Linked DNA regions of Homo sapiens. The protein of the gene in region 7 interacts with the protein of the main gene of each other region in a biochemical or structural test. Each region holds a gene or a part of one and is shown on either strand. Other genes may lie near its edges.

Region 1 (3,500 bases), on a different chromosome or scaffold from region 7:
ATGGGTACAGAGTTTCTGTGTGGGAAGATGAGAAAGTTCTGGAGGTGGATGCTGGTGATGGTTGCACAATATTGTGAATGTACCTAATACTGATGAATTGTACATTTAAAAATGGTTAAAATGATAAATTGTATGTTATATATATTTTACCACAACTAAAAAAATTAATGTTCAAGGGTGTCCAAGCAAGAAAAAAACAAAAACCACCCATGTGTGCTCACGCATCTTTGGCACAGATGCGGTTCCTAGGTTCAGCTCTCTCCTCAGGCATTGTCTCTTCAATGACAACATTCTGTTTCCACCAACTCTGTTTCTGAACCAAATCTGACACAGCTGTCACTGGCCTACTCCCTGGAATTACCACAGGATCTGAATTAGCCTCTGGCAGGCCCCCTGAGGAATCTTGCTTTCACGTTTCCATTATGGTCAGCACAGCAACATGGCGGCCTATCCCGTTTTTTGTTTTTTTTTTTTTTTTTTTCCTGAGATGGGGTCTTCCTCTGTTGCCCAGGCTGAAGTGCAGTGGCACAATCTTGGCTCACTGCAAACTCCACCTCCTGGGTTTAAGTGATTCTTCTGCCTTAGCCTCCCAAGTAGCTGGGATTACAGGCACACGTCACCAGACCCAGCTAATTTTTGTATTTTTTAGTAGAGATGGGTTTTCACCATGTTGGCTAGGCTAGTCTCGAACTCCTGACCTCAGGTGATTCACCTGCCTCGGCCTTCCAAAGTGCTGGGATTACAGGCGTCAGCCACCACATCTGGCCTGCCTATCCCTTTGATTGAATATCACCTGAGTAACTGATATGGTTTGGATCTGTGTCTCTGCCCAAATCTCACGTCAAATTGTAATCCCCAGTGTTGAAGGTGGGGCCTGGTGGGAAGTGATTGGACATGGGGGTGGTTTCTCATGAAGGGTTTAAAACCATCTCCCTTGGTACTGTTGTTGTAATAGTGAGTGAGTTCTCAAGAGATCTGGTTGTTTAAAAGTGTGTAGCACCTTGGGAGGCCGAGGCAGGCGGATCACGAGGTCAAGAGATTGAGACCATCCTCACCAACACGGTGAAACCCCGTCTCTACTAAAAATACAAAAAATTAGCCGGGCGTGGTGGTGGGCGCCTGTAGTCCCAGCTACTCGGGAGGCTGAGGCAGAAGAATGGCGTGAACCCGGGAGGCGGAGCTTGCAGTGAGCCGAGATCACACCTGGGCGACAGAGCGAGACTCCGTCTCAAAAAAGAAAAAAAAAAAAGGTGTGTATCGCCTCCCCCTTCTCTCTCTTTCTCCTGCTATGTAAGATGTGCCTGCTTACCCTTCACCTTCTGCCATGATTTTCAATTTCCTGAGGCCTCCGCACCCTCCGCCCTGAGAAGCCAAGCAGATACAGGCATCATGCTTGCTGGACCACCTGTGGAACCACAGGCCAATTAAATCTCTTTATAAATGACCCAGTCCCAGGGATTTCTTTACAGCAATGTGAGAATGAACTCCTACAGTAACTCATTTGTCTTTGACTTTCCTCTTTCTTTTAGTGACAGTGTGTGTGCCTAAGTGACTCTTGAAGAAGCCTTCATTCTTGAAGACACCCGGTCCTCACAGGGGCTCCTGGGGCGGTGTCTGTGGCAGGTGAAGATGCTATTGCAGAATTTATCTTCCTTGCCAGAAGAGAACGCCTGGGCAAAGGAGAACTGCCTTATAGCCCAAACTGGGGCCCACTGTCTTTTCAGGTCTCTGGCCATGGGGCTTGACAGCTGGATTCTAACGTCTCTCTCCCTAGTGCCTCCCACGTTTACTCTCCATGTTCTGTTGATTTTCTTGGTGTGTTTGCCTCCCCGATCGCATCTTTGCTGTCTGCTCCACACTGTACCCGATTTCTGCCCCTCCTTGCCTCTCTTGATTACTCAGAGCTTCAACTACCTCCTCACCTCTGACAACTCCGTCTATTGCTTACAGGTTGGTTCACCTCACACACCTGTCACCTCATGGCTGTGGCTTCCGCACCTGTGTGCATGGCGCCCTCCTCCCATAGCTCTCTTCCCAGCACAACCTGCAGCTCCTCCCGCTGCCCAGCTGCTCCACACGAGCCGTGATTAGCTCACACCGGCCTTTCCTCCTCCACTATCAGCTCAGAGCCAGCCATAGCTCACAACTCTGAGAAGTCTTCCCTGAGCCATACGGAGGAGACTGTCGCCTTCACATTTCTCTCCCAGGACCCTTCAAGTATAGATTAGGTGCTCAGCAATGCCTTTCACTGCAGTCCTCATCCTTTTTCCTGTCTGCACTTCTGGAGCACGGGATGCCTGCAGCTTTCATTTGAAACCCCTTTCTATGCTATTGGGACCCGCTGTGTCTTAGAATTGTTTTCTGGGTTCTAAACTTGCTCCCTCCTCTAGTCTAGAGACCAAGGACTGACATGTAATTTGCAGTTGGTATCGGTATGTATGAGATGTAGATGCTCTAGTAACATGGGTCCGGTGATACTGACTTACATCACGCTGGATTCCTTCCTTGCTTCATATACCCTCATGTAACTTTCCGTGCATATTTTCTGCCTCCTTGGAGAGGTTGTACCCCCAGAGCTCCAGGGGAAAAGAATAACTGTCCACACAGAGGTGAGTATTGGTGCTTTCTAGCCATACACTAGCATGAGGGGAGGGGTCAGGGAGGCTCTGTCCATAGAAGGCTTCAGGAGTCGCCCGTTGCCATGGATTCTGTGTTTTTTGAATCCCAGATGCCCAGGTGAGACCTCTGATTTGTGTTCCCCAAGACCACAGACACATGGAGCTTCCTGGCATCAGGTTCCCGACACCAGAGTTGGGGTTCCTTTCAACTCTATTACAGTCAACGAGCGTCATGCTCACGGACTCGTTCAGAGCCACATGCTTTGCCTGGCCTTCTGCTCACCTCTGAGTGGCATCTGGAGAAGAGGTGGCTTCATCTTGCTGCAGTCCTCCCAGCGTGGAGAGACCTGCACTCATCAGTGAAATGAATACAACGGGAGGTGTCTGGAACCTTTCTTCATTTTCACCAAAGGAATATTTGACACACCCAGGCATGGTTCAGAGCTCCACCCTCAACAATAATCCTGTCAAAATATCCGATGTTGTTGAACCTCAAAGGCACTGTATCACAGCAGAAAAGTGATTGATCTCATTGCTAAACTCTCTTTCTTGCTTATTGGCATGACAACGGAGCTAAATAGAGCCGAGATGAATTATGAGTCTATTTTTGGAGACTCCTTATGGAATTCATGCACACTGTGTATTTTGCATCCTTTGAATCCTTGGGCACACTTAGAACTGTGAAGCAAACACTCATTTGTAAATGTTACAGCTGCCAAGGTTGGCTGCATGCTCTGCTGGGTGACGTGTTAACTCTCACAAGTCTGCTTTGGAAGCAGGAGGAATGTTTTGAGCTGAGCTTCGGGCGGAGGGTGGGGCTGACGCATGCATGCTTACCTTGACCCTGTCCATACAGGCTTCCATCTTTAGCTGCTCCACAGC
Region 2 (3,500 bases), on a different chromosome or scaffold from region 7:
GCTCAGTTCACACAGGATGGAGGCTTGAACTCAGGACCATGTGACTCCAAAGCTAAAACTTGCAAAGCTAAAACTTGCAATCATTAACACCTCTCTGCACATAGGAGGGACACTTATTAGCTGTCTGGCCTAGAGGCCTTGGGCCCTTCACCCGCCCCCACCCCCACTGAAGCAGGGACTTGTTCTTGGTTTCCCAACTACATCTCTGCCCACTCATGCCCCCTCCCACCCCATCCCCACTTCTAAGCTGCTACTTTTCCTTTTTTGTTTTGAGACAGGGTCTCACTCTGTCACCCAGGCTGGAGTGCAGTAGCATGATCTTGGCTCACTGCAGCCCCAACCTCCTAGGCTCAAGGGATCGTCCCACCTCAGCCTCCCAAGTAGCTGGGACTCCTACAGGTGCATGCCACCACATCCAGCTAATTTTTGTGTTTTTGTAGAGACAAGTTCTCACCATGTGGCCCAGGCTGGAACTTTTCCTTTCAAAAAAAGGAAAACACTCTATGGGTCCTCCTTCCCCACTCCCACCCTGTCCTGCCACCCATCCTACCCTCACCCCACCCCCACCATGCCCTGCAGAAAAGAGAAGAGCTTATGAGGACACGTTCAGGCTGGAGCTCAGAAAACCCAGAGCTACCAATGACTTCAAAGCAGCAAACAGCTTGTCCCCAGGGGCTCTCAGGGATGGAATAGGTTAATCCATTACTTTTGTTTCCCCTTTTTTTGAGAAGGAAGAAGGGCACTCTAGGAAAAGTCCCACAAAAATCCAAGTCTCAAGGCATGGTCACCCTCCTGGCTGGTGAAGCCACCACTCCCTCCAGCTTTGTGCCTACGCCTGCCCAGCACACCTTCCGTACCCAGATCTCCAGAGCCAGACAGCTCAAAGTCATCAGATTCCTGCCCGGGCCCCACTACATCCTCATCGTCTGGTAGGGCTCCGGAGAAGTATCGGCCTTCTAGGAGGTCCTGGGGGTCGATGACCTCAGTCTCTCGGATCTAAGATAAAGAAAGGAGACACATCAGCCAACATCCCCAGTGCTCCATGACAGCTGATGCCCAAAAGCTAGTGAAGTGGGCATTCAGAAACTAGAAAGAGACCAGGCCAGGGCCTGGAGACCTGCGTCCTGGATCCCACTCTACCTCTAACTCACCGCGTGTCCTTAGGCAAGTCTCTTTCCATTCTGGGCAAATAAAAATAGTACATGAGGCTGGGCACAGTGGCTCACACCTGTAATCCCAACACTTTGGGAGGCGGAGGCAGGCAGATCACTTGAGGTCAGGAGTTCAAGACCAGCCTGGCCAACATGGTGAAACCCCGTCTCTACTAAAAATACAAAAATCAGCTGGGCGTGGTGGCTTACGCCTGTAGTCCCAGCTACTCGGGAGGCTGAGACAGGAGAATTGCTTGAACCCGGGAGGCGGAGGTTGCAATAAGCCAGGATCACGCCGTTGCACTCTAGCCTGAGCTACAGAGTGGGACCCCCGTCTCAAAAAAAATAAAAACAGTAAATGAGGTAATAATCAAATTATTAATATGGCTAGATATCCTTTACCGAGCACTTGCTATGTGCTGGGCCCTGTTTTAATAACTCTGGAGGCATGTTATTCACTTCTTTTTACAGCCGAGGGAGTCATTTTCTTTTGGTGACACAGCTGGCAGATGGAAGAGCGAGGATTGCATACGCAGGGCTGCCTGACTTCAGAGCCAGGAGTCTCCATGCACAGGGCCCTGGGATGCTACACTCCAGGGCTCTGTGATGCAGTGGCAGCTGATTCACACAGGACAGGGAGTGGGCTCCTGGTTCTGGTCTTGCCCAGTCCAGGATACTTTTCCCAGCTGAGTCAGTCTGGGCCGGGACAGACAGGGCTGCCTCACGCACACCCTAAGACAGCCTCAGGTCAGGGCGCTGCCCAGACCTGATGACTCAGGAGTGTACTCCTGGATTCAGTCTTGCCTTCCAAACATCTCCCACAGATCTACTCTGCTGCCAGCACCATGCAGACACCGAGAGGCACAATCCCTACCCTCACAGACCATCCACTCCAGTACCCATAATCATCACTCAGCCACTACCCTGTGGAGACACAGCTGATCAGGACAGAGTCTCAGGTCCACTCCCACCAAACCGCTTGCCAAAAGAAAGTGTCAAAGGTCCCGGGCAGCCCTACAGTACATCAGTTACCCTGCTCCCATCCTGTAGCTCCACCGAGTGGGAACAATGTACCCTCAAGAGCACAGGAAACATTTGGATGCCCATCACCCTTCCTCCAGCTTCTGGGCTCAGGCTTCTGTTTGCCCAGAGAACAGCAGCTCTGAGCAAAGTTCATTATTCTACTAATTAATTCAAACACTAAAGTGCCTAGTATTTGCCAGGAGAGTTGGGGTTTTTCATTAAGTTCAATACACCATGCCCCTCCCGCTGAAAGACATTCCCATCTTCTCCAGACGCCATAACTGCAGGAGCTGGGGGTCTGCTTAGAATCACAGAATGCCAGGACCCAAGGAGCTCCTGTCCTCCCGTTTCACACAACTTGAATCTGAGCCCGGAACAGGGCAGGGACTTGCCCAAGGTCACACAGAGCGTTCGCTACATAACTCAGGATAGAAAGAGGTCAGGTCTCTGTTTCGGACACCCCAGGCAGTCCTTCACTCAGCTGAGACTGCCATTGACAAAGGAGGGTGTCTGAGAAGGAACATCTGTCCCTAAGATAAGGTTATTATCATTGCAGGAGAGGCCCAGGAAAGCTGCTTCAGAGCCACTCCTGTACTCTCCCCACTGGGCTTCTGGGGAGAGGCAGGTGGAACCTGACCCTCATGCACCCTCTTCCACCCCCACAGAGGGAGAATGCTGGATTCCCGGAAGGGAGCGGGGTCAGGCCACAAGGAAGGCAGTGGCCAGGAATCACTCTCTCCCGGGGAGTGGGGAGAATGCTGAACGCTTGGCACCCGTGGGGGTGGAAAGCCAGAGAGGTTAAGTGCTGCTCAGAGATGACTTCATGACTCGGGAATCAGGAGCTGCCGGGCTGCTGGTGCTGGAATTCAAGCCCCCGCACATAGCCCGTGCCTGTGGCTTTGGTTTGGCAGAGCAGGAGGAAGGCTCCTCATGGCTGCCCAAGTGCCTATACCTAAGGGCAGGGTCCCTGTGCTCCTACCTCCATCTCCTGTGGCAAATCCCCCAAGAACCCAAGTGACAGGCCTTAACCAAGCACACAGCCTGTCTAGGTCCTTTTAATAGTCCCTTTTTGCAGAGATGGAAACAAGGGCTCAGAAAAGTAAAGTCACTTGTCCAAGGCCACACAAGCAGGAAGTAGCCACACTGGGCCAGAACCCAGGCTTCACTGACCTGGACATTTAACCACAAACACATAAACACACGCATGAACACATATGTACACGGGGTCACCAGCCTGCCCCAGGCTCCAAGGGAGCCCTGTTAAGTAGGGGGGTCAATCTAGCCGGGAGAAAGAAAGAATGGTACACTTTGGCCAGCTGTTGACCA
Region 3 (3,500 bases), on a different chromosome or scaffold from region 7:
TCTCCTGCTGATTTCAAATATCCTTTTTTTTTTTTTTTTCAACTGTGATCACTTTCAGACAGAAAAGCCAGCTTAAAGAGTTAATTTACAAGCTGCATTTGGGCAAATGGTGTTAAATGATGAACACTTTCTAACGCTTTATTCATGTACTGACTAGCAAAGACATTTTATAAAATGACTACTACCTGGGATTACAAACGCAATAATTGTATACATTCTCCTATACTTGTTGGCTAGCGGTGGTTAATGCCTCTCTAAGTATTGCCTACCGCAAGAAGCTACAACTTCCCTACTTAAAAAGGCCCTTAATTACTGTGCTGGATTCTCTTTTCTACAATGTCCTGCAAACTATCAAGCTCACAATGGTTTCTGTTCAGCAGTTTATTTCTTCTCTGAAATATCCTGTTGAAATCCATAATCATTTTGACAAAACCCACACAGAAAGCAAGCCAATAATTTCCCTGGCATTTGGTAAATGCTGCAGAAACCATCATAAAAGCACCACAATGTAAAAATAATTATTTCAATGTATTAAGCGCTGGCTCTGAACCAGCTCCTGTTGTAAGCACTTTACATGTATTAATTCATTTAATCTCCCCAACAACCATATGAAGTGGGTACTTTTATCACTCCATCCTACAGATGAGCAAAACGAGGACCACAGAGATTATACAATCTGCCAGGTTACACAGCCAGCAAGTTGCAGTGCCAGAATTGGACCCTGACAGTAAGGCTGCTAATCATGACACCTCACTACCTTAATGACACTTCATGAGCCTCACTGAGTATGAAGGTGAAATCCCAAGCACTTTCCCTGGCCAAAACTACCATATGTAATCTCAGACTAGGGTAGAGGCAGACAGCAAGACTTTGAAAACATGTGCTTCATCCCTTCCCCTCACTTCCCAAAATGATATTGTTTTAAAACAAAACAATTAAAAATGAATGTGAAGAAGGTTCAAAAGTCTCAAAAGAGAAATTCAACTTCCTTGTTGCCATGATTTGAGGTACAAGGGGAAACAGGGCTGATTATGTATATTCAAGCTTGGAAAAGTTTTTTGTTCTTTTTTTTTTCTTAAGAAAAATTTTTAAAAACCACTGTGAACTTCAGGAATCTTGAGCTAAAATATAACTTAGATCAATATAATCCAAATTGTATTTTTAAAAGGAGGAAGCTATCATCCAAACATTAAATGGTTTGTCAAGGTAATAAGGTTTAATGGCAGATCTCCTAATTTCTGATTTGGGATGCTTTTTACTTCCCTCATGCTTGCAATTCAGACACAGCTTGCAATGGGCCAAAACTTCAGATACCACCTAGCCAGTGTTTCAAAAGTCTATTTGTAAACTGATTGTGGGTTTCTATGAAAAACTGCATTCCAAGTTTCGGGCCAGGCCCCAAAAGCCTGCATAGTACCCTGATAGCCTCACTTCAAATACATATTTTACCTAACCTTCATATACAGTATCATTTTTGTGTCAAACCCCATACCTGTTTTAAATTCAACCTGGAATACAGGACACCAATGTCTACATTTTATGTACATGGTCTCAGGCCATAAGGAGCTTCCTCTGCCTTGCCAAGCTCACAGATGTGGTGATGGCATAGTGTGTGTGTGTTGTGGCAGGGTGGTGGGGGCAGTGTAGGGGCACAGATGAAGGAAGAGCAGTACTAACACCATTAAATATTTGCAACTCACCCAATTTATATTTAGTGGAGAGGAAACTATAGAAGTCAAACATGCCTCAGATGTCAAAGAAAGGTGCTTCCCCTGGCCCCCTCCCTCCCTACCCTATATTGTGAGTTCTGGATTTTGTGAAGACTGTATTATTCTATATCTAGCTACCTGGATTGGCACCCACCCAGTCACCAGGCATTATTCCATTCAGGAAAAATGCTTTGCAATCACATGACTTACAATAACTCAGACACTTCCACATTTTAATTTATATATTTGGTAGTAATAAAATCTCACAATACAATCCCTAACAACATTTTATCAGCTGCAATGAATCATTATATATGAGTCATAATAAACTATAATGTTATCAAGACTATGAATAATAAAATGATCAGTGATATAGCCAACATTTATTGGTATATCAAACAAATCTGAATTATGAAAAGGAAAAACAACAGGTCAATGATGAAGAAAATGTCTGCAACATTCCTAAGTTTAATTGAAGATCACCATCATGTAACATCCCCAATTTAGTAATGGTAACATAGCACACTAAATTAAGATAATTCCACTGAATTATTAAAGTGACAAGGTAAGAAATATTTGAATGTTATGCAACTTCTGAACTGAAACCAGCAAGTACATGAATTACTGTTCTTGGCAACTTAGAGCCTGATTACCTTACCTTGAAATAACCCTGTTATTTCTTATCACTGAGCATCGAACTGACCTGCTGACTGCTATCATCACTTCCATTGATGTAAGAATGAAAGCTTACATCCACGTATCTTAAAAGTTTTCCTTCTTTTCTCTATTTGCAGCTGTCTGTAGTGTTGTCTGGCTGTGAAATAGTTATTTAATTCTCCAAACATACCTAGTCCTCTGGTGTTATGTTTCAGATTCTTCTTCCCCCTTCAGTGCAGGAAGGGCACTACAGAATCATTTCACACATTGAAGGAGTAACTATCTCCCTGTACACTTGAAGGCGTGAAGGCAAACTTCCCAAACTGACATACAATACCATAGGCATTTATGCCCTAAAATAACCCTATAGTAACCTCTATTTTACCTTCCATTTAAGAATGAAGATATGATGTCCATTTTAGAATTAAGCAAGGTAGGGAATTACTGCTCAATTGAAACAGAAAGAAAAACACATTAGATTACAGAGCATTCTCAAAATACCTTAATATTTCAAAAGAGTCAGGTAAGAGACTAGACTTACCTGATGGTTGGCATCATCCAGGGTATGAATATTATTTAAATTGATCCCTGGGTAACAGCATGGAAATTACTAAGGTCAAAAATTGCCAATAATTGCATTTTCAAAAATTAAAGCGAGTTTCAAATTTTTACATTAAATTTACTTTGCCTATTTACAAGAAAAGGAAGAAAACTGCGATTCTAATTTAAACCTAATCCAAATACTCAAGGTCATAGAAATGCTAAAATTTTTATTAAACTGAATTTGGTAGTAGTTTCTTTAAATTCATATCATGTCAGAACTAGTCACAAAATTAGATTTGATTTATTCAGCTTATAAATGCATTACTGCTGCAATAATGTATATAATTTTACTTTCTGGCTGAATACTAGCTGCCCCTAGTTTCTTCTTCCCTTGTTTTCCATCAATACTCTGCTCCCTTATCTCCCTCCAAAAACAATACAGGTAAAAATTAAAATAATTGGATATTTAGCTTTCCCAACTTAGACTCTTCAGTATAATACATAAGACACCAGATGCAGCACCCTCTCCTTACATAATAGTAGGGGGTGGGGAGGGAATGCACTTTGGTCAAAATACAATTTCGGTTATTT
Region 4 (3,500 bases), on a different chromosome or scaffold from region 7:
GGCTCGAGTGATCTTCTCACCTTGGCCTCCCAAAGTGGTGGGATTATAGGCATGAGCCACTGCACCCAGCCTGGCACAAATTCGGAATAAGACCCTGGGTTCTTAAACTCTTCATGGTTTAGGGGAAGACTCAAAAAAGCCACAAGACTCCTTGCTAACAAAGCTTGTGGTGTCTTGAAGGATGAAATGGAAAAATGAGGAAGCTGAGGCAGTACTGGTGCTGTTACTGTCGTGGACAGACCATGGTGCTGCAGAGAAATTGGTGCAGTGCCACCGGGATGCACAGGGGTCATGGGGGCTCAGGAGGGGGCCTAGCCCAGGAGGAGGGGATGCCCACACTGAGACTTCAAGGAGAGGCTGGAGTTAGGCATGTGCAGGGAACGGGAGAGGCGCACACCTGGCAGAAGGAGTGTGCATCAAGAGCCTGGCAGCAAGCGACTGTAAGATGGCCAGGAACTGAAAGCAGTTCAGGGCTGTCAGAGCACAAAGGGCCAGCGAGGGGTTGTGGCGGGAAACATGGTTGGAGGGAGCCAGTGGGCAGAGCCAGTTCATGAAGGATTTACCATTTCTGGGCTGCTGCTGCCCATCCCACAGTGGAGAACTTAAGACCCCAAGATAAAAGTGACTTACACAAGGTCACACAGCCAGCTGGGGTTCACTCAAAGCTAGAGAAGGAATCCCACCCCGAATCCCGCCCAGATCTCAGGGGGACGTCACTCACCTGCAGGCGTCCAGAGTAGAGCTGCAGCAGGAGGTGGTCAGCTGGGCCTGCTGCCAGGAGAAGGAGGGCTTCGGGCTGGGACGTGGAGAACTGCAGCTGCAGGTCTATGTCGGTCAGAGCCGTGGCCACAGGCACCTCCAGGTGGTTCTCACCGAAGAAGGAAGCTGTGTGAGAGAGGGAGCTGTGGTCAAGGCTCAGACTCTTGCCTGGAGGAGGCGAGGTGCCGCAAAGAGGGACGGGTGGGTTGCAGAAAGGGGTCCGTGCTGGCGCACCCTCATGGTTCTGCTGTATGGTGCTGCCTCTGAGCACTGCCCGGGTCCCAGCATCTTCTTGGTCCTGGCACCAGAAGGCACAGGCTCACCTTGTGTCCAGCCCAGATCTTGTATTTACAGGAGGTCAGACCCAGAAATTCCCAGCAACTCAGGTCTCCTCCTTGGAGGTTCCTGGAGCCAGAGGCCTCCGCCAGCTCTGACTCGCCTCCCCTGGGCCCCAGAGGAGTCTCCCTCGTGGGTCTGGCTCCTGGACCCAGCCCAAAGGGAACCGCAACTGGCCTGACCATCTGGCTTGGTGGTCACAGCCCCAAGGAATGGAGTTTCTGGAGAATCACCCCCAGTCCAGACTGATCCCTGCTCAGATTCCTTCTCCTAAGTGCCCTTGTGCTTGGGCTCCTGTGCAGCGCCTGCTGTGCCATGCCCCGCCTCCATGGGTTGGCTGAGGCCACGACTGGGATCTGGGGGTGGTGTCAGCATGGCCCACCTATCCCCGCTTCTCTCTCAGGCCATTCTTCCAGCTGCCATTGAGCGTCGGGGCAGGAGCTTATTGGCCTGAGTCTGCCAAGGAGCAAAGGCTCTGAGGCCAGATGGGGACCATGTGCAGTGTCAAACCAAAGTGGGCCCACACTTCCTCCATTACCCTTGCTATTGCTTCCTGCTGGAGAGCTATTCACAGTCCCCGATGAGCAGTCAGATCCGGCCCCATTGTTTCCACCGTGGCCAAGGAACCAGGGATGAGAACAGCTGAGTTCCTAACTTCCCCAGGCCACCACGCAGGCTGAGGCTGAAGACAGGGCTTGGGAGGGGCTGAGGGTCTGCTGGGCAGGCCAAAGAGGGCCTCCCCAGGCAGAAGGCCATGTCTGGGCTTGCCTGGGGTTAGTGGTTCCTATGCAGGGCCCGTTCTGTCCCATACTGGGACTCCTCCTCTTTTGAATTGCTGCTTCCTCCAGTCAGTTTCCCCAGATTAGCCTCCCTGACTTCCAACCCGCTGCCACAATTTCTGGTCCATGCCTTTTGTGGTGATAAGAGCCAAATATAACTTTGACTTTGCCTGCAGATGTCCAGGGCTGGGGGGTAGAGAAACACGGGTTAAAAACGGTGATTCATTCCTGTTGGGCTTCCCTCAAACCCGAGAGCGAGCACAGGCTGACGGCCTTGATAGGGATAATCCGGCACCAGCCCCATGTGCTGGTCCCTGGCCAGCCTGAGCCAGCTGCCATCCGCCTGAGTAAGCAGCTTCAGCCGTTGGAGGAGTCGGAGACTTGTACACCCTAAGGGCAGCCAGCCCCACTGGGAGGGATGTCCAAGAAAGATCCCGTAAGAACCCCTTGGGCTGAGTTAAATCCCCTCTAGTTATCTCCTCCTGCCAGCACTGCTGGCAATACCAGCACCTTGTCTGGGAAGCTACGGGAATCAAGGGAGCCCTGCAGACCATCTGCGCGGGGGCGGCCCAGCTGGTTCAGCAGAGCTTGGCGCCAGCAAGGGACAGACCAGGGAACTGCAGGTGGCGGCCACCTACCGGGGTGCCTTATCTGCAAAGACATTGATTCCTAAGAGCAAAACACAGCACACTAAAGTGAGGGAGGCCATAGCACAAGGGGTGGGGGCACATGGCCCTGCAGGATAGAGCCACCACCGTCACCTGCTGGAGCGGCTGACAGCAGCTGCCAGGAGTCTACTGTTGAATTTTCAGGAATTTTGAGAGCCAGGTGATACTGCCCACAGTGAGAACATTTATACCAGGAAAAGAGGCAAATACTGCAAATCAGGGTTCCCCCTCCCCAAGAAAGCCCATTGCTAAACATTTACCTATCCAGCACCCACAGAGAAGGGGGCACATGTCCCTGCCCCTACCCACCCTTGCACTAAAGGTATATGTAGACCCGCCAAGTCATGGTCAACATCAGGGCTCTGGGCCAGGCAGGAACTGAACTAGATGGTTGGCCCTAACCACTGAACCACCTGCCTGCAGCCCCCTCCCAGCAGAGGAGAGTAGAGCCTGTTTGGCCAGAGTGGGAGGGTGGCAGGAAGTAGAGGTACTTTCCAGAGCGCTGGGGTCTGAATGGGTCCATTGAGGGGCTGGGCCCTGCTGCTTCCTGTGGGGCTGAGCGGGAGGGGCTCACACAGGCTGTCTTGTGCTGCTGGAGCGCGTGGCCAGGCAGCCCCCCACCCCAACAGAGGCCTCTGAGGCCTTGCTGGCCAGGGCTCTGGAAACTCTGACAGCGCCACTCCCTCCACCTCCTGGTCTCCTTTTTTCTGCCCCTCTTACACTCTCTGAGGGGCTTCAGTTGCAAGAACTCAGAATCCCTGTCTTGGAGGTGGTGGGGGGGCAGTTGAAGAGGGGCTTCAAATGGAGAGGGTGTGCAGAATTAAGATGTAATAAGCTAGGAGTCAATCCAGAGGACTTCCTGGAGGAGGTCACGGTGGTGTACAGACACAGAGAGGGAGGAATAGGCAGTCTCAGAGGACAGCAGCAAGGCCGAGTGAGACTGGCAGGAAGTACACAG
Region 5 (4,043 bases), on a different chromosome or scaffold from region 7:
CTAGAATAATTCATGACACATGAACATTACATGAAATTCTGATTTCTTTGTCCATAAATGGTTTCTTTGGGACACAGCCACACTATATTGTCTGCTTTCATGCTGCCACAGCTGAGTTAAGCAGCTGGGGCAGCGATAGCAAAGCCAAAACCACTTCCTACCGGGACCTTTAAGAAAGTGTGCCCTTAAATACTCTGATAGCCCCTAGTGAATTAAATTGACCACCTGACATCATGCCCCTGTTGACCCTTCAGAGACTCAGGCACACATCCAGGCCCCAATGCTACCTTTCAACCCCTCAACGACCTCAAACTGGTGTCCACTGACGCCCCTTCCAGTGACACCCCTCTTAATTCTTCCGACCTCGGCGAGAAGGGGGCTAACCTAGGCCTGTCCTTGAAGAGACCCAGGTGCCAGTCCATTCTCTCCAGCCTCCCCTCGGTGATCCCGGAAGCTGGAACGGCGGCTCTCCTCTGACCTCTGCACACTTTCTGAAGATGGGAGTGTCAGGGCAGGCAAAAAAGAGAAGCTCTTCGTTCCCCAGAACCCACTTCCAGTGCCTCAGTTCTGTTTCCCAGCAGGCTTGTGCAGGTCGAGATGCTCACACAGGACTGACCCTGGTGCCCCAGCGCATCCGGGAAAAAGGAACCACAAATTCCTCGGGAAATACACAGAGAAGATCCCGCTGCCACTTGGCCTTTCCCACGGCGTGGCTGCCCCTCCCCGGCCTCCCTTGGGCCCGGCTGGAGCGCACAGCGCGGGACGCCCCCGACCCGGGGTCCTCTGGCACGAGGGGCAGCCTGATCTCGGCGACCGTCTCCACCCAAGGCTGCTGCCCGCCCCAGCTCGGACTCCGCGCGGCCTGGCTCCCAGGGGACGGGCGGGAGGGCCCGGCGAGACCGCTCGGCCGTCCACCCAGAGCCGGCACCCGGAGGTCGGCCCCTGGGCGCGGATCCCGATCTGAGGGCGGGTCCCAAGCGGCAGGGAGCGAACCTGGGACCGTGCCACCCCCCCACCAGTGGGCGCGGCAGCCGAAAAAAAGGGGAAGCGCCGGCGCTGGACTCTGCTCAGGGCAGCCCGCGAGGACCTAGGGCTCCGGCCACAGCGGCCCGAGCGCCCGGGGTGGGGCTACGCGGGCTCAGAACACGGTGGCTGGGGCGCCCTGCCCGCCGCTGCGCGCTTCCATTGGCTGCCGAGGCAAGGGCGGGGACTCAGTCACCGGCCTCCGCCTCCCGCGGCGTCCACACTCGCCGCGCGCGCGGCGGCCGGGCTGGACCTTGCTGGCCCGCGGCGCCATGAGCCGCAGCCTGGACTCGGCGCGGAGCTTCCTGGAGCGGCTGGAAGCGCGGGGCGGCCGGGAGGGGGCAGTCCTCGCCGGCGAGTTCAGCGTGAGTGGCACACGGGGTCCGCGAGCGGCGCGCCCCGGCCCTGGCCCTGCGTACGCCTGTCCTCCGCGCACGGCGGGCTCTGCCTTTCTGTCTCGGTGTCCCCGGTGTCTCCCCGCCTCGGGGGGTCTCTCCGTGTTTCTCTCCCCAGCACTTCTCTGTCGCTCTTGCTGTCTCCGTCTTCACTCTCTGCCCCCCGGCCCCGGAGCGCGACGTCCACGGCCAGGCCGGGACGGACCGTGCACACCCTCGTTCCCGGTGTCCTCGTCGCGCTCCCGGAACAACCTGGCTGCGGGCGGGACAGGTGGGGCGGGCGCCGCAGGGGAGGGCGGGCGGCCCTGCTGCGCTGGACAGCCCCGGCCCCGCCGCTTCTGGCGACCTGACTGTCCCCTGTGACCACAGGAAGGAAGGGGCTGCAGCAGGGCGAAGAGGAACACGGAGGCTGTGGCGTGGTGAGGGTGTGAACGCCGGGCTCGAATCCGCGTCCGGGCCCGAATCCGCTTCCCGTCCCGAATCCGCGTCCCGGCCATCCGCGTGTGGTCCAGGCGGTCTACCTGGCCCCTCTGACCTCGGCTTCTCCCTTGGTGAAATGGGGACATGAATGACCAAACTGGTCTAAGGATTAAATGATGTGGGTGAAAAGCACTTAGTACATATTGGGCGCACACTTCGTAGGGGCGTTCGTCACTGCCTATAAAGATTCTAAACGTGGGCCAGGTGCGGTGGCTCACACCTGTAATCCCAGCACTTTGGGAGGCCGAGGTGGGAGGATCGCTTGAGCTCAGGAGTTCGAGACCAGCCTGGGCAACACAGCGAAACCCCGTCTCTACTAAAAATACAAAAATCAACTGGGCATGGGCGCATGCCTGTAATCCCAGCTACTAGGGAGCAGAGACAGGGGACTCGCTTGAACCTGGGAGGCAGAGGTTGCAGTGAGCTGAGATGGTTCCACTGCACAGCTGAGATGGTGCCACTGCACTCCAGCCTGGGCCACAGAGTGAGATCCCATCTCAAACAAAACAAAACCAAACAAAAAATCTAAACGTTACAATACAGGTAGTGCAAGCCCAGCATTAGGAAGGCTCACGCAGAATGCTAGGCACTGTACATTACAGTTGATGACGTGTTTAAAGTGTAATCGCTTATGTACCAGACATAGAAACATACCATACAAACGCATAAACTGATATATGGTGACATGTATCAAGTTTAGAAATATGACAAATATATAAAAGTATTATAAATGACCGTTTATACAATAAACATTGCATAACTGCATAAAACAATACAACAAATGAATATAACAAAGATTATAATTTATAAAATGACCAAAGTTATTTGATAAATTCATAAGTAGATATAAAATATGTAACAGATGGCCGGGCACGGTGGCTCACGCCTATAATCCCAGCACTTTGGGAGGCCGAGGCGGGCGGATCACGAGGTCAGGAGATCCACACCATCCTGGCTAACACGGTGAAACCCCGTCTCTACTAAACACACAAAAAATTAGCTGGGCGTGGTGGCGGGCGCCTGTAGTCCCAGCTACTCGGGTGGCTGAGGCAGGAGAATGGCGTGAACCCGGGAGGCGGAGCTTGCAGTGAGCCGAGATCGCGCCACTGCAGTCCAGCCTGGGCAACAGAGCGAGACTCCATCTCAAAAAAAAAAAAAAAAAAAGTAACAGATAATTATAAACCTAAGTAATTTACACACATGTAGAAACATTGTATATAAGAAACTAAGAAATGCATAATAAATGTAAAATATATAATTATACAATATAAGAATGTGTGTAACAAATGTAAACATAATACCCATGTGATATATGACATCATGCGACTGGGTGGGTTCTGAACCGTGTACAGTGCGGAGGGCCTCACATGCGGAAGGCTGGGTGGCGAGGGCACCCCTGCTCCCCAAGCCTGCCTCCCGCATGTGCAGGAATCACTGCGCTCTTCTAGGTGTTCCCACTACACAAGGGCATCATGAGGGCTTAAATGACCCAATGGACACAAGTAAAGCACTTAGAATAGTGGCTGGCACACAGTGGTGGCATGGGTGTTACTTATTATCATTGAGATTACGAATACCTGACGATGATGGTAATACACGATTCACTAATTATTATTATAATCTCCCAGTAACACAGTGCCTATAGTATCTTGTACATAATATGTTATCCATTATAATGCCTATGCATTCATTGTACATTGTCTTATATGTTTAGCTACATAGCCCATAATATATTTCATTACAGTTATTGCTTACAAGACAATGTCACAGATTGAGTGTGCAGGGGGTGGGTGCCGAGAGGGTCTGAGTTCAACCCTCACCGTGTGACTTCCTGGTTGGGACCTTCCACAAGTCGCTGAACCACGTGGTGCATAAACTTTCCCGCCTGCACAATGGGGACGTCAATAATAGTACCCACGTCGTAGGAACCTGTGATGATTACATGCCCTTAGCACAGAGAGTGGCACAGAGAAGGTGCCCTGGGTCACTATTTCGGTATCATTATTATTAGGCAGGCCCAGTGCCATCAGGGTCTGCACTCACCTCCCCAGGCCACTGGCTTTGTATCCTGCAAGCGTGCCTAGGTGGCCTGGGACTCTGACCTGGCTCCTCTCCTGTCTTCTCCCCTCCCTGACCCACTCATAA
Region 6 (3,937 bases), on a different chromosome or scaffold from region 7:
GCTGCTGTCACGGCCACCAGGACCCAATTGCCCCAAGTTTGCTGCCCCTCCGGTTAGGATGTTGCACAGGCCTCCAGCTTCATGTGGTCCCACCCTCAGGCATTTCTGTCCCTCCTACCCTGGCCTCTAGGTCCGGCTGACCCCACTCGGCCCAGTGGGGCGCGGCCTCTCTAGCACCTGTCCATCCAACCTCAGTGAAGGCAAACTCAAGCTACAATGATGCCCTTGTACTCCGGTAATTCTGCCCGTCAAACTTCGGACTCAGTCACATAATCGGGGGGAGGACTTGCTTTTGCAAATCATGCAGCACACATCAGCCAGCTCCGTTTGCAAGGTGGCCAGGGATTTGGCTCTGCGGCCTTCACTGGGGCAGTTTTGGCCCCCAGGGCACATTTGCCAACGTCTGGGGACACTGCTGGTAGTCAGGAGTCCTGGCTACTGGTTGGCAAGGCTGCTGGAGAGACCTGTTATCTGGATCAAGGTCCCTAGGGCTGCGGTAGGGAAATCCTAGGCAGCTAAGCAGAGAGCCACCCTGCGCGGTGGGGGCGGGGAAGTGCACCTGGCCCTCCCACCTGGACATAGCTGGTTCAGCCCAAAGTGCATTCCAGTCACTCCCCAGCTCCGGCTCTGAATGAGACATCCCATAAACCCAGCTGCTGTCCCTGGCTCTGCTGCCACTCACGGGGTTCCCCCAAAGGGTGGGAATCAGAGCCTGCCTCTGACAGGTGCCCGTGTGGGTGACAGGTCTCCTGCCACCCGTTCACCCGCTGTAGGACAGACACACAGACAGTGCCCTCTGAATGCCCTGTCATCCACTGTCTTCTGCCCCTCCCCAAACTTCTGGAAGGTGGGTATTTTCCCGGGCAGGTAAGGAAACCAGGTGCAGAGGGAATGTGGCCTGCGGGGGTGGGACTGCTGGCCAGGCCCTGTCCTGACCTGGATGGCTGTCCCCAAATGGGGACCGGGGGGAGTGGGGGTTCTGGCCTCAGCCAGGGAGTCACTAGAAATAAGGACGCTGCTCCAGACGGATGGTCCCCTGTGCTAAGGACAGGAGCAGCCCAGATCCATCTGGAAACCAAAACTAAAACTCAGACCCAAACTCGCGGGGAGCGCCTGCGCCTGGATCACAACGTGAACACAGATGGCCATCCTCAGGATGGGGACCTGCGCGTCACATGTGAGCTGTGGGGACCCTGGCACGCCGCTTCTCACTGCTTCACCTCTGTGCCTCAGTTTCCTCATGTGTAGGTGGAAAGTGCTTCCCACATAGGGTGGTCCTGTGGGTCAGAGATGGCCCCCGAAGAGCCAGCGACCTCAGGGAGGCCCCCCAACAAGGGTTTCTCCCCAGTGTCCAGGTGGAGGGAGGGCCCATCCCACCCTCCAGGTGACTTTGGTCCAGGTGACTTACTTCTTCCAGGAAGCCCCCAAGACACCTCCCTTCCAGCAAGACTGGGGTGGGTGAGGAGTGCCTACCTTCAGCCCATGGCTCCTGCTCTGGACAGTACCTTTCATCTCACCCTGTTCCCCTCTGCTGGCTGTGGGCATCGCACAGCAGGGTCCACGTCTGCCTGGCACACTTGTGGGTCAACATCTTCTAACTCAACACTCCTACTAGTCCCATTTTACGGATGAGGAAACCGAGGCCCCAAGAGCTGCTTAGTTCACAAAGAGCCAGGATGTGAGCCTGAAACCCACACACCTGGGAACTATGCCACGGAGGGGTCAGGACCTGCAGCCAGGCACAGCACCTGGACCCTCTTGCTGGACCCCCAGCCAGGCCCACACGCACCCCCTAGGCCCCCATGTTAGGTGGTGCACAGACTGTTCCCCTCAAGGACACAGAGAAGATTCAGGCCTTGATTCAGGTCAGAAGCAGAGGTCACCAAGACCTGCCATCGCTGCCACTCCCTCAGTCCCCCCACCTGCTCAAATCTCAAAAGGGATACTGTTCCCATTTCACAGACGCAGAAAGAGGCTGAGCGGCCAAGACAAGCGGCCACGGCTCCCTGGTAGGTGGGACGCACCCCTCCCCCTCCCCATCTCCCTTCTCAGGGGAGACAAAGCAGGTCCCTCCCTGCCACCGCCCACCAAGGTCAAGGGTGGGGGAGGGGCGTATGGTTTGGGTTTGTCTTGGGTGTGGGGTTCTTCCTTCTCGGGGCTTTTCTGAAATTTTGGGGCCAAAGCAGGTTTGGGTGTCAGATTCCCCAAAGAGCTCCCGGGAGGGTCGTTCTGTTCCGCCCCCCACCCCATGCTCTTTCAAACTCCCTGGGGCTTCCAGAGTCCTCGGCGCTCAAGTCTGAACCCAGGTTCCGGTTGCATGGAAGTTTTCCTTTAGGAAGAGGAAGCGGCCACTCGGGGTCAAGAGAGGGCAGCGAGCGAGCGGGCGGGGGCAAGCAGGGGGCTGCCTGGTGTGTGTGGGGGGGCGGGTCCAAAGTCGCATCCGGCTCAGCCCGCGAGCCCCGCCTCTCCCGCCCCGGCGGAGCCCCAGGAGGGTCGCGAAGTTGTTGCGGCTGCCGGGGCGGGGCTTGCGGGAAAAGCGAGGGGGAGGAGAAGCGCCCCGGGTTCCCGGCGCCTCCCCCGGGCTAATCCCCCCACCCGGCTCCCCCGAGCCCCGACTCACCTGTCCCCCGGCTCACCTGTCCCCCAGGCTCACCTGCGCCGCGGGGCGGAGGGACGGAGGGGCGGCGCGCTGGCGGTGCAGCTTCCAGCGCCGGGTCCTGTCCTGTCCTGCAGCCGCTTCGCTCCTGCGGCAGCGCGGTCCGGCCCGGGGCGCCTCCTCCGCTTCCTGCGCGGTCTGGCTGGAGGGCGGCGGCTGCGGCCCCGCAGGTGGGCGCTGGGCGGGCGGGGCTGCTCCGGGTCCGAGGGCCCGGGCGGGGAGGGCCGGGGAGGGGGCGGGGCGCGTCCCGGGCACCTGTGGCGGCGCCGCCTGCGTCACAGGTCACAGCCCCACCTGGGCCGGCTGGAGCCCACGTGATCGCCCGGACTGGATCGCGCCTCTCGATTCCCGCCGAGCCGCCGCCGCCCGGTGCCTGCGCCTTCCCTCCCCGCGCCCACGCCCCCTCGAGGCCGGCCCGGGAGTCGCCTGCCAGGCGTGGGGCCAGAGCGGCTCGGCTCCCTCCTGCGTCACTGTCCTTCCAGGCCCCGCTCCACTGCCTCCTCCAGGAAGCCTTCGGGGAAGGAGACCAGCCCTGCGGGGACCGATGTTTGCTGTAGAAAGGCCCGGCCCTCTGGATTCTTGGAAGCCAGGCGGCCAAAGACAGCCAAGAGGGCGCAAAGCACTCTGGCCACCTTTTTGGTGTGGTTGAGTCGCGGTCATCCCCATTTCACAGAGAAGGACCGAGTCCTGGAAAGGAAGGCGCTCGCCCTCGTGCACAAGGCTGAGCCTGGACTCCGAGCCTGGCCTTTCCTTGCTCCGCCTGCTGGGAACCCGTGTGAAAGTGAGGGAGGGCCCCGGGCAGAGGCTGCAGCAGCCCCCCAGCTGGGGGTTCAGGAATCAGGCCACCTGGTGCTGTGGGAGGGGCTGGGGGCTGAGCCAAGCCTCCCAAGCTTGGGCCTGGCCATTCAGGAATGTGACCTGAGGTCCCAGGGCTCAGACCCACTTCTGACCTGCCTCCATCATCCCCTTTTCAGGAAAGGCCTGTTGCCAAAGGCCTCCATGTGAACATCCACACTGGGCTTTGGGTCAGCTTCTACCAGCGTCCCCTCACTGACCCCAGGCCTTGGGGTCGTGGGCCGGGCACCGGTGTGCCAGCCAGAGGCACTGACCACCCTCCTCCCAGGACCTGCCTCCCTGGCCTGGGCGGCCGTGAGATCCCGTTGCGGGTTGAGGAGACACCACAGGCTCTGGGGCTGTCACTTGGCATTTTCTCAGGTGTCATAGGTAGAGGGGCGGCCTGCCCTGCCCCTCCTGCTCTGGTCGCCCCACCCACTAGTCCCC
Region 7 (3,500 bases):
TTGAGCACATACACCAGGCTGTCCTGAAACAGAGACTCCGCTCAGGGCAGGCGTAACGCGAGCAGCACACGGGAAAAGCGTCCCGTGTCTAGTCACTGGTTGCTGAAGCAGCGTGGCTGGGATGCTGTCGCCACGGGCTCTCCATGTCCCTGGCCACCCCCACACCAGAACCCCGACGGCTCTCAGGAACCCGCCCCTCGATGTCCGGGCCCATCCCAGAGGAGGTCGGTTTCCCGGAGGAGCACACGAGAGACCCAGGAGACACCCAGCTTTGAGACAGCGACAGGCCAGGTCAGGGCTGGCCGGGAAACAGGCACTGGTTCTACAGACCGGGCCAAGGACTACATAACTTCCCCCAAGTCATCCCCAAAACTGTGTGGGAGCACTGCCGCCTGTGTGGGAGCACCACCCCCAGTGTGGGAGCACTGCCGCCTGTGTGAGAGCACTGCCCCGAGGGAAGATGCCACCTAAAACCTGGGCACAGGAGCCCTATGGCTGTAAAGTGCTCATGGAAATGAGCAGCAAAGGAGCTGGCTGCACAGGAGGGCGGGGGTAGGGTGAGCAGGGGGCGGGGAAAACAGTTGTCTGGCAGGGCAAGTGTCCGGCAAGGTGAGGCGAGGTGGCCCTGCGCCTGGCATTTGCTCGGGGCGACAGCCTGCCTGCTCTGATGGAAGTGGTGAGAAACGGCTCTGGGCAGATAGGGGTGGCATGGGCCTTTGCTCGGTGCCCCTTCAGAGAATGTGGCCACCAATTGGTGACTCAGCAGCCCCCTCGCCAGAAGCAGGAAGCAGACTGGCCCTGGCCAACTGCCCATGCCCTTCCCCAGAGCCAGGCGGGAGACCAAGGCTGGGAAGGCGTGAGGAGTTCTCCCTGAAGGCGCCTGGTGCTGAGGGCACCCACTCTGGGATTGGGGAAGTGAGGAGCCCCCACTGCCGCCCACCGTGGCCTGGACAGGGAAAATGTGGATGACTCCACATGTGCCCCCGCCATCCCACTCCACAGCCTCGGCACAGCCAGAGGGGCTGCAGCCACAGAGCTCGCGGCCGACTGGGCTAAAGGCAGGCGGAGGCCTTGACTTCTGAGTCCCGCCTGCTGTCCCTGCAGTGGCACCGGGCAGTGGGTGTCAGGAGGGGAGGCTCACGTGCTGCTGGCTGTAGCCCTGCAGAAGGAGCAGATGCGGGGACTGGTACAGCGAGTACCGCATGGCGTCGGGGCCGGGCTCCTCGGGGCCCTGGGCGGCAGCGGGCAGGGCGTTCACTGGGCTCAGGCTGGTCTCACTGACTGTGCGGCGCAACCGGGGTGGAGGAGAGCTCCGGGCATCCCCCAGGGCCGGGGTCGGGGTTCCCTTCGCGCGACTCCGCTGCAGCCTCCGGGCCTGGGCGTTTATCCCTGGAACAGAAGCAACACAAGGTGAACAGTTAGAAGTCTCATAGCACCAGGACTGGGCGCGGTGGCTCACCCCTGTAATCCCAGCACTTTGGGAGGCCGAGGTGGGGGGATCGCCTGAGGTCAGGAGCTCGAGACCAGCCTGGCCAACACAGTGAAACCCCATTTCTACTAAAAATACAAAAATGAGTTGGGCGTGGTGGTGCGCATCTGTAATCCCAGCTACTCAGGAGGCTGAGGCACGAGAATGGCTTAAACCCAGGAGGCGGAGGTGGCAGTGAGCTGAGATTGCACCACTGCACTCCAGCCTGGGTGACAAGAGCGAAACTCCATCCCCCGCCAAAAAAAACAGGTAAGTCTAATAGCGCCCATGTCCCGGGTCCTTCTGAGTTCAAATCCCACTAAGCCACGTCTCCTAATGCCGTTACTGTTCTGTCAAAACAGGTCTGGTGGAGACTCAAGGACTCTGCCCTCTAGCCACGCCCCTCGAAAAACCAGACAGTGCCTTGGCACCACCGTGGCACCCACAGAACAGTCTCAGAGCAGGCAGCCTGCCTGTCAAATCCTCAGGCTGAGGGGACCACGCCTCCCCTGCAGCAGCCCAGGGTCACACCGCGGCCTGCCCGACCAGCCAGCACCACGGCCCACAGGCCTCAAACCACAGACGTTTTCCCACGGCAGCCTGGGCCTCTGCAGGGTCACCACGCCGCCTCCAGAGCCCTGCCCCATCCATCTGTGCACCAGGCGAAACTCCCCTGGGGGTGGTGCTCTGACGAGACGAGACGGACTGGTCAGCATCCTGCCCCTACTTTACAAGGAGGAGGTGTCACTGTGCCACATCACCCCAGCCCATGGGGCTGCCGATGGCCTGCTCCTGCAACAGCATCGCTGCCTCCTTCCCAAGGCTGTCTCTGATACCCCCAAGCCAAAGCAGGCACACACACAAACACACGTGTGCATACACATGCCCACAAATACACATGCACCCACACAAAAATGCACACACACATGCACACACATGCACCCAAAAACACACATGCACACACATACACACACGCCAACACACATGCACCCACACACATTAACACATACATGCACACAAACATGCGCACAGTTCAGAGATAACACACACCCTTAGAAGACTTAATATCTCATAAATACAGACACGCTCTCTAAATGCATGCTCTGGGAAAGCCAGCCGGCTGCGATAGATGAAAACCGCTCACCAGTCCCCAGCTGACCCGGCGCTGTCTTTTCTGAGCCCTCTGCTGAGTTCCCTGTACGCAGCCTTTCAGGTTAAGATCCATCCCCATCTGTGGCGGCCTTTCCTCCAACCATTCCCAATAAAACCAAACAAAAGCCGGATGGAGGGAGGCGTCAGCTGGCTGAGGAAGACCCTTACCAGCGCCAGCAGCCCCGCCGTCCTTCCCAAGGCAGCCGGCAGCCTGTGCATCTGCAGCCCGCAGGGGGCCAGGGCGTGAGGGAGGCCGCCCAGCCGCAGTGCGAGGCTGCTGGGCTGGGCTGCTCACCACCCGTGCTCCTGCCGCCTGCAGAACCCGGCCCAGCCTGGCAGGCGGCAGGTGCCCAGCAGGTGGGGCCCAGTTCCCCTACCTCATCCCACCCGCCACTCCCACAAGCGTTACCAGCCCCACAGCTCAGCCTCATTGCACAACTATGGGGCCAGATCCGAAAGAAGAACAAAAACAGCTCCAAATGATGCTCCGGCCCTCAACTTTCTCCCAAATCCAGGGCCAGGTTGTAGGAGGTGACCTCAGAGTGACCTGCTGGAAGTCCCAGGGCCATGGGGCAGGAAGGGTTGCTTCTCCTCCTAGAGTCCCAGGGGCTCCCAGAGGACCTGGCCACAAATGCGGCACGGGATGTCCCAGGCCTGTGTCCCCTGGGGCTGCAGCCCCAGGCAAGTGGCTCGCAGCTGAGTGTACCCTGCTCCTCCAGGCAAGGCTCCACAGCCTCCTGAGGCCCAGGGCTGGGCTCTCTGCAGGTCGGAACCAATGCTGACACGCAGGGGCCACTCCCAGGGTCTCCTTCCTGGTGCTGGGTAGGCCTGCATGTGTGCAGAAGGGCCAGGCTGCCAGCCTCCAACGAGGGGCCGGAGG

The links.
Region 1: the proteins of RADIL (region 7) and GNG4 interact in a test that uses a peptide from one of them, tested with the Homo sapiens proteins (one large-scale study listed by IntAct).
Region 2: the proteins of RADIL (region 7) and SDC4 interact in a test that uses a peptide from one of them, tested with the Homo sapiens proteins (one large-scale study listed by IntAct).
Region 3: the proteins of RADIL (region 7) and PKP4 interact in a test that uses a peptide from one of them, tested with the Homo sapiens proteins (one large-scale study listed by IntAct).
Region 4: the proteins of RADIL (region 7) and CSPG4 interact in a test that uses a peptide from one of them, tested with the Homo sapiens proteins (one large-scale study listed by IntAct).
Region 5: the proteins of RADIL (region 7) and PTPN18 interact in a test that uses a peptide from one of them, tested with the Homo sapiens proteins (one large-scale study listed by IntAct).
Region 6: the proteins of RADIL (region 7) and ARHGEF16 interact in a test that uses a peptide from one of them, tested with the Homo sapiens proteins (one large-scale study listed by IntAct).

What each region holds. Positions count from the first base shown.
Region 1 is NC_000001.11:235,580,285-235,583,784, forward strand, and holds part of GNG4 (guanine nucleotide-binding protein G(I)/G(S)/G(O) subunit gamma-4), read right to left. Parts: coding exon 3,456-3,500; intron 1-3,455. UniProt on the Homo sapiens protein: Guanine nucleotide-binding proteins (G proteins) are involved as a modulator or transducer in various transmembrane signaling systems.
Region 2 is NC_000020.11:45,334,925-45,338,424, forward strand, and holds part of SDC4 (syndecan-4 precursor), read right to left. Parts: intron 997-3,500; coding exon 858-996; intron 1-857. UniProt on the Homo sapiens protein: Cell surface proteoglycan which regulates exosome biogenesis in concert with SDCBP and PDCD6IP.
Region 3 is NC_000002.12:158,459,952-158,463,451, reverse strand, and holds part of PKP4 (plakophilin-4), read right to left. Parts: intron 1-3,500. UniProt on the Homo sapiens protein: Plays a role as a regulator of Rho activity during cytokinesis. May play a role in junctional plaques.
Region 4 is NC_000015.10:75,692,349-75,695,848, forward strand, and holds part of CSPG4 (chondroitin sulfate proteoglycan 4 precursor), read right to left. Parts: intron 886-3,500; coding exon 722-885; intron 1-721. UniProt on the Homo sapiens protein: Proteoglycan playing a role in cell proliferation and migration which stimulates endothelial cells motility during microvascular morphogenesis. May also inhibit neurite outgrowth and growth cone collapse during axon regeneration.
Region 5 is NC_000002.12:130,354,813-130,358,855, forward strand, and holds the start of PTPN18 (tyrosine-protein phosphatase non-receptor type 18), read left to right. Parts: upstream 1-1,243; 5' UTR 1,244-1,295; coding exon 1,296-1,388; intron 1,389-4,043. UniProt on the Homo sapiens protein: Differentially dephosphorylate autophosphorylated tyrosine kinases which are known to be overexpressed in tumor tissues.
Region 6 is NC_000001.11:3,453,528-3,457,464, reverse strand, and holds the start of ARHGEF16 (rho guanine nucleotide exchange factor 16), read right to left. Parts: upstream 2,801-3,937; 5' UTR 2,654-2,800; exon of another isoform or gene 2,637-2,653; intron 30-2,636; exon of another isoform or gene 1-29. UniProt on the Homo sapiens protein: Guanyl-nucleotide exchange factor of the RHOG GTPase stimulating the exchange of RHOG-associated GDP for GTP. May play a role in chemotactic cell migration by mediating the activation of RAC1 by EPHA2.
Region 7 is NC_000007.14:4,835,217-4,838,716, forward strand, and holds part of RADIL (ras-associating and dilute domain-containing protein), read right to left. Parts: intron 2,235-3,500; exon of another isoform or gene 2,172-2,234; intron 1,390-2,171; coding exon 1,142-1,389; intron 24-1,141; coding exon 1-23. UniProt on the Homo sapiens protein: Downstream effector of Rap required for cell adhesion and migration of neural crest precursors during development.